2 linked regions of the Homo sapiens genome follow. The protein of the gene in region 1 purifies or fractionates together with the protein of each later gene. This does not show direct contact. Each region holds a gene or a part of one and is shown in the gene's direction. Other genes may lie near its edges.

Region 1 (3,817 bases):
CCTCCAGCAGCCTCTCTCTGAGATGGGGCTCTGTTCTGGCAGGATTCTCACTGGGAATCAGACAAAGTTTTCAGGATCCCAGACCTGCTGCAGAGACCCCCAGGAGGCAGCCCACCACCTGAGGTTCTGGGGCTCCCAAGGCTCCTGCTGCCTTGGTGGCAACTTCAGGGTGTCGCCAGACAAGCCTCGAGGGCCACTGGGCTCCGCCTGGTCATCCCGAGCCCGAGATGCCACGTGGTCAGACCTGCCGCAGCCAGTTCCCTGCCTCGGCCAGTCCCCTGCCTCCACTCCTGCCCCTCCACACCCCAGCCCTCCAAAAGCAGCAGACCTGCTGCCCTGGGATGGTTGGAGGTGGAGACCTGGCGCCCCGCTGGATGCACGTCAGACCCCAGGGTGTCAGTGTCCCTGGAGGCCGGTGGTGGTAGGAGGGGAGTCCCGATCACACTAGGGGTGCGGGAAAATCACCAGGGGGTGGCCCGAGTCAGTGTGCAGTGGGCGTGGACACCCACTGTGAACAGTGGACGGGGCTCGGGGGTCCCGGGAGGGGCTGCAGCCCCGAGGACACTCCTGCAGGGCTTAGCAGTGCCAATCCTGGCCCTGCTGCCCACAGGCATGCGGATCCTGGTCACTCTGCTGCTGGATACGCTGCCCATGCTCGGGAACGTCCTTCTGCTGTGCTTCTTCGTCTTCTTCATTTTCGGCATCGTTGGCGTCCAGCTCTGGGCTGGCCTCCTGCGGAACCGCTGCTTCCTGGACAGTGCCTTTGTCAGGTGCCCAGGCCCCACCCCCGTGAGGCCCCTGCCCAGATGGCCCTGCCCACCATGCAGATAACGCACCATGTGGCTCCACCGCCCCACGTGGCTCTGCCCACCGTGCAGTCACCCGCCCCGCCACTGCTGTCCCCGTCATGGCTCCGTCCACCATGCTGTCTCCCGCCCCCACCCCCCATCATGGCTCCGCCCAGCTGGCAGTCACCGCCCCACATGGCTCCGCCCACGGTGCAGTCGCTGCACATATGCCCCACCCCCCACCATGGCTCCGCCCACCGCGCAGTCGCTGCACATATGCCCCACCCCCCACCATGGCTCTGCCCACCACGCAGTCGCTGCACATATGCCCCACCCCCATCATGGCTCCGCCCACCGTGCGGTCGCTGCACATATGCCCCACCCCCATCATGGCTCCACCCACCGTGCGGTCGCTGCACATATGCCCCACCCCCATCATGGCTCCGCCCACCGTGCAGTCGCTGCACATATGCCCCACCCCCCACCATGGCTCCGCCCACCGCGCAGTCGCTGCACATATGCCCCACCCCCATCATGGCTCCGCCCACCGTGCGGTCGCTGCACATATGCCCCACCCCCATCATGGCTCCGCCCACGGTGCGGTCGCTGCACATATGCCCCACCCCCATCATGGCTCCGCCCACCGTGCGGTCGCTGCATATATGCCCCACCCCCATCATGGCTCCACCCACCGTGCGGTCATTGCACATATGTCCCACCCCCAGTGCTGCCACCTCTCAGCCCCCAAGACAGGTTAGTCCCAACACTTCATCCCCTCCCCACACCCCAGAGTCCGTCACACCTTACCCCAGGGTCTCCCCTCGGCCCTTGCTCTGCAGTCTCTCCTCAGCCCTCACCCCGGGGTCCCCTCAACCCTCACCCCGGGTTCTCCCCTCAATTCTCACCCCCGAGTCTCCCCTCAGCCTTCACCCCAGGGTCCCCTGAGCCCACACCCCGGGGTTCCCTGCCCTCAGCCCTCACCCCTGGATCCTCTCAGCCCTCACCCCAGGGCTGCCTCCTTTCCCTCACCCCAGGCTTCCCTCCCCTCGTCCCTTGCCCTTTGCCCCTCATCCGCTTCCAGGAGTTGCTGAGGTCTGAGCCTGGGTTTCTGGCTCTTGGGTCTCCCTCCCTGTTTGTCTGTGCTGTTCTTTGTTGATTTCTCTGTCCATCCCTGTTCTTTGTGTGTTTGTCTCTGTGGACTTGGGCTGAGGAGAGTGTGGTTTCTGCAGCACCACTGTGTTCTTGACCCTGGTCCTGGCTGTGTCCCCTGATCCGGGTCTTGACCCTCAGTCCTATCATGCCCCCTGACCCTAACCGTGCCTCCCTAACCATGATTAGTCCACTGGCCCTGACCCTGATCACGTCCCTGACCTTGATCACGTCCCTGATCACAATCGTGCCCCCGACTCTGACCGTCCCTGACCCTGATTGTACCTTTTGGCCCTGGCTGTGCCCATCCCCAGGAACAACAACCTGACCTTCCTGCGGCCGTACTACCAGACGGAGGAGGGCGAGGAGAACCCGTTCATCTGCTCCTCACGCCGAGACAACGGCATGCAGAAGTGCTCGCACATCCCCGGCCGCCGCGAGCTGCGCATGCCCTGCACCCTGGGCTGGGAGGCCTACACGCAGCCGCAGGCCGAGGGGGTGGGCGCTGCACGCAACGCCTGCATCAACTGGAACCAGTACTACAACGTGTGCCGCTCGGGTGACTCCAACCCCCACAACGGTGCCATCAACTTCGACAACATCGGCTACGCCTGGATTGCCATCTTCCAGGTGGGCGGCAAGATGGTGGGACGGGGACCCTGGGGCACGGCAGGGGAGCGGGTGCAGGACTCGCCCCCCCCAGCCCAGACCCCAGGGGCACGGGGAGGAGGAGGAGGGGTCGTGCGGGCCCAAGTCAAGCCACTGCCCCCCCAGGTGATCACGCTGGAAGGCTGGGTGGACATCATGTACTACGTCATGGACGCCCACTCATTCTACAACTTCATCTATTTCATCCTGCTCATCATCGTGAGTGTGGGCGGCAGTGTTCGCCATGATGGGCCCTGGTGTTAGCTGGCTGGGGGTGGGGTGGGGTACCTGGGTGGTCATAGGGGCTCCTGTCTGTCTTCCAGCTGAAGGGAGCACACAGGGGAGGGAGGCAGAGCTTGCGGGGGTGGGGAGGTGTGGCTGGGGACCCCAAGAGGCCATGGCATCACCTAGACAGGGTCCAGGCCTGTGGGTGCTGGCTCAGGGCTGAAGAGCCAGGAACACCCTGGGGAGTGCATAGCCTCCCAGCACCGCTTTCCACGGGCGTGTGTGGCCCCAGGTGTGCTCCTTAGCTGGTCCTCTCATAGGCCCCAGTGGGTCCTGGCAGAGTTGGGTTAATCAGGCCGCAGACGTCTGTGGGGTCCTAGGTATACCTAGAGCCACCCTGCGGGGACCTAGTAGGTAACAGAAGCAGACAGACGTCCCCAGCTTGTTCTGAGAGAGCAAGCGAAGCGAACGATTAGAGACTTGCTGCACGCTGGTCCATGCTAAGGAGGAAACGCACCTGGGGTGCTGGGGAGGGGAGAGTGGCCACCGTTGAGAGGGTCATCTCAAGGCCAGATCTGCAGGTAAAGGAGGGGCCGAGCCACATGGAGAAGCAGGAAAGAGGGTTCCAGGTCTTTTGTCCAGATAGGCACAAAGCAGCTACTGTATGCCGTCTGCTCCAGACGTGGGGGCTCAGCACTGAACACCGCAGCAGCCTGCCCATAGCAGGGCACCTCGCCCACTGTGCCTGTGACGCGGCCCCCACTCGAACAGGCAGCGCACAGTAGGGCTCAGTGGCGAATCAGAGACTCGCTCACTCACTGCCACTTACCCGCCCGCCCCCGTCACAGGTGGGCTCCTTCTTCATGATCAACCTGTGCCTGGTGGTGATTGCCACGCAGTTCTCGGAGACGAAGCAGCGGGAGAGTCAGCTGATGCGGGAGCAGCGGGCACGCCACCTGTCCAACGACAGCACGCTGGCCAGCTTCTCCGAGCCTGGCAGCTGCTAC
Region 2 (3,817 bases), on another chromosome or scaffold:
TTAAATTACTCCATCAGACACTTGTCTGTCTTGCAATGTAGAAGCAGCTTTGTAGCACCTTGTTTTGAGGTTTGCTGCATTTGTTGCTGCACTTTGTGCATTCTGAACATGAATGTAACATTAGATATTAAGTCATTGTTATAAGGGGTTGAATTTAAATCCTGTAAGTCAAAATTGAAAGGGTGTTATTAAGTGTGCCTTTATTTTGCATGAAAATAAAAAGAATTATACGTAAAGCATTCCTGTAATCTGGCTCATTGAATATTTTATACTTAAAAAACTTTTTTTGGCGTAAATATTTGTGTAAATACTGGGTTAACTTTTTAAAAGCCCATTACAGATTAAATAGAAGAGAGTGATGTGAGTATTAGTGACCATACACAGTAATTCAGTCTAGATTTCTTTTCCTGTGGTTGGAAAGCAAAAATACATGATGTGGAAAAGCCTGAATTTCTTGTAGTCACTTTTGACAGCCCTCTAAGGGTCATTGTCTATTAAAATAGCAACAGATCTGATGTTTTCCTTAGTCATAATTAGGTTTCTTTTTGGTGTTGTAATTAGTGACTTTTTTAGAGGGAAAAAAATAGGCAATTTTAACGTTTTGAATGAATTTACATTTGACTTCACAATTTCATTTCACTTGGTTCCATAATAAGTGCTCTTTTTTTTTCTTTTCTCTCTTCTCTTCTCTTTCTTTTTCTTTCTTTCTTTCTTTCTTTCTTTCTTTCTTTCTTTCTTTCTGTCTTTCTTTCTTTCTTTCTCTCTCTCTCTCTCTCTTTCTCTCTCTCTCTCTGTCTTTCTTTTTTTGTGTGCATGTGTACATGTGTGTGTGTGAGAGAGACAGACAGGGTCTGGTTTCTTGCTGTGTCACCCAGGCTGGAGTGCAGTGCAGCCTCAACCTCCTGGGCTCAAGCAGTCCTCCATTTCAGCCACCCAAGTAGCTAAGACCATAGGCACATGCCACCACAGCCAGCTAATTTTTTTTATTTTTTTTATTTTTTATTTTTTTATATTTTTGTATTGCCCAGGCTGGTCTCAAACTCCTGGGCTCAAGCAATCTTCTGACCTCAGCCTCCCAAAGTGCTGGGATTATAGGCATGAGCCACTATGCCTGGCCAATGATTGCTTTTCAATAAAAAAAATTTTTTTCCTGTAAACAATTTTTACTTGTAGCCTATACATGTTCTATTTTAAATGTCATTGTATTGTTCACTACCACCACTGGTATATCTGAAAAGTACACTGTGTTTTGAAATTATAAATTTTCATTCTGAATGAGGTTTCTTTTTTTGATTTTCTTTAAAAAAAAAAAACAACCTGCTTTGATTTGCTTTACATTCCTTGCCCTCCATTTTTCTTATTATATTGTAAACATTAGAAAAATGAACTAAAAAGAATTTCATGAATGTACATTAAAACAAGATCTTAAACATTTGATAAAACTAGTAAAAATGTTAATAGAAAAGGATGAACTTTAATAGCTTCAAAAATATTATACTCTTCTTTGTTCAGAAAAGAAAAATAAAACCAAAAGGGTATCATACTTAAATAAATCTACAGTATAGTCATCTCTCAGTTATCCTTGGATATAACATTACTTTTATATTGTATCCGCAGCAAACCTTGCTTTCAGATTTCACGATTAGCCCCTGCTAATTACATGCTTTGTTGACTTCTGTTTATTCTTAATTTGTACACGGCTTGAAGCTCATTCCTTCAACTTTGAAACCACCCTCAACTGCAGGGGAGGTTTGAAAGACAGCAGCTTTGCTGGAGGGACTCTCTATTCTCAGCATGGACTAAGTTACTGGAAGGAATTGAGTTTAAGGGGTCTAATTTGGGACCCCTTAAACTAGATAGCTTCTAGTTTTGCTAGCTCTTGATAGTGTGGTTTGGGCATTTGGTCAAAATTATTTTCCTAGCATAAGATAAATCCACTTTGAAACAAATAACAAAGGTCATACAAAAGCTGCATGTTTGTGATTATTTTTTAAAAAGTTATCCTACATTTTAAATTTTAGTAGATAATGTTCCCTGATGTTAGTGTGTATAACTGAGAGTTAGGTATTGCAAAAGGAAAAAATTTTAATTCTAAGACCTCGTGCCTATTTGTCAGAAAATAAAAATTGTCGTTTCAAGAACTTTAAAAGTTAATTTACATGATGTTTCTTGAGTGTTTTTACAAACTGCACAACTCTATTGGAGGTGGATTTTCTGTTCATCTTTATTTTATGTATGTTTTCTTTCTGGGAAATTTGATTGGGAGCTAGCACTGTAATGCTACCCTCACCAGGATCTATATGGGAAATATATGTGGCCAATTCTATGTTAGTAATACCAAATTCCTCTTGGTCATTTATCTTGCATAGTACTGAGGAACACAGTTTGAGATAGCACTATGCTCAAACTTATTAAGGCCATGACAAGATGCCCTATATAACTGAAAACAAATAGAGGAGAAATAGTGCCTTTCAGATAGAGTGTTGCAATTAGCAATCTGGGCTCAAGTGATCTTCCTGCTTCAGCTTCCCGAGTAGCTGGGATTACATATGCACACCACCATGCCCGGCTAATTTTTTAAACTTTTTTTGGGGGGAGATGAGGTCTCTCTATGTGTTGCCCAGGCTGGGCTCAAACGCTCAAGGGATCCTTCCACCTCAGCCATCCGAGAGTGCTGGGGTTATAGGCATGATCTTCCATGTCCTGCCCGATTTGTAATGTAGTTTAACAGTTAAGGAAAATTAACTCTTCCTTTATTCAGTGTTCGTCCTAATTCTTTTGGGTCCCCAATTCACTTTACTGTCTGGTTAAGATCAACATTTTCTAACTTAGTTCACTTTAATACCTTAGATTCATCAGTTTCTTTTACATTAATAATTGCTTTGGATAAAATTATTTCTAAATCATGTTAATTGCTAAAAGATCACTTCAGGAATAATTATTCTAATTGGCCTTATTGCAGAAGAAGCAAAATAGGAGAGACCAGGGCATTACTTTTACAAATATTCTGAGTAATAAGGGGAATGGACAATATTGTAAACCAGTATTGTTGTGTGCTATCTTGAGTCCTGGTCCTCAGTGTGAGCTCTTTATACAGTTCAAACCCAGAAATGAGCGAAAAAAAGAATCTTTGACTATAAAATGTTTGACTAATTATGGTGAAATTCTCTAAATGGACCAGTGACACACTATACCAATAATGTATTTCTTATTTATAATATGACCTATGTGTCTATATCATGAAATAATTAGAATTTATGCCTGTAAGACCTCACTTCTCTTCCTTAATGTCTCTTTAATTGGTAGATGAGTTTGAAAAGATGCTCAGTAGTCTTTTTCTGAGGCAAATTTGAGTTCATGATAAACTCTGTCAGTATAAATGGAATTTTTTAAGGCTATAGATGTTAGTATCTGTAGGTATTTGGAACATCAGTACTAGAATAGAAAGGAAGTTACTGGTAGACAGGAGAAGTCCTTTCAGGTCCCCCACAAAGAACAGAGCCACAGAACTGTTCTACTTATAGTAATTCATCAAGTTTACTGCCCTTAAATTTCACTGTAGTCATATCAGCTCTTGCAGCTTATGTTTTGCCTTATAAATTACAAGTAACAGGTAAAGCATTGCTGACCCCTTCTAGTTTATGTCTTAGGGAACCAACTGGTAATGAGTATTGTTCTCACTGACATGAAAGAAAAGACTTTTCTGTTTGCTTTTCTGCTACAATTCTATTATAATTTTACCCTAGAGCATTTTCCTGTGATTGTGATGGATGTGATATAATAAACATAATGGAAAATTCTAAGGCCATCAAATTAC

Evidence for each region.
Region 2: the proteins of CACNA1H (region 1) and PPP3CB purify together in Homo sapiens (co-immunoprecipitation; one study listed by IntAct). This does not show direct contact.

What each region holds. Positions count from the first base shown.
Region 1 is NC_000016.10:1,198,005-1,201,821, forward strand, and holds part of CACNA1H (voltage-dependent T-type calcium channel subunit alpha-1H), read left to right. Parts: intron 1-610; coding exon 611-770; intron 771-2,251; coding exon 2,252-2,567; intron 2,568-2,711; coding exon 2,712-2,804; exon of another isoform or gene 2,805-3,217; intron 3,218-3,327; exon of another isoform or gene 3,328-3,385; intron 3,386-3,639; exon of another isoform or gene 3,640-3,658; coding exon 3,659-3,817.
Region 2 is NC_000010.11:73,440,211-73,444,027, reverse strand, and holds part of PPP3CB (serine/threonine-protein phosphatase 2B catalytic subunit beta isoform), read left to right. Parts: exon of another isoform or gene 1-239; intron 240-3,817. UniProt on the Homo sapiens protein: Calcium-dependent, calmodulin-stimulated protein phosphatase which plays an essential role in the transduction of intracellular Ca(2+)-mediated signals.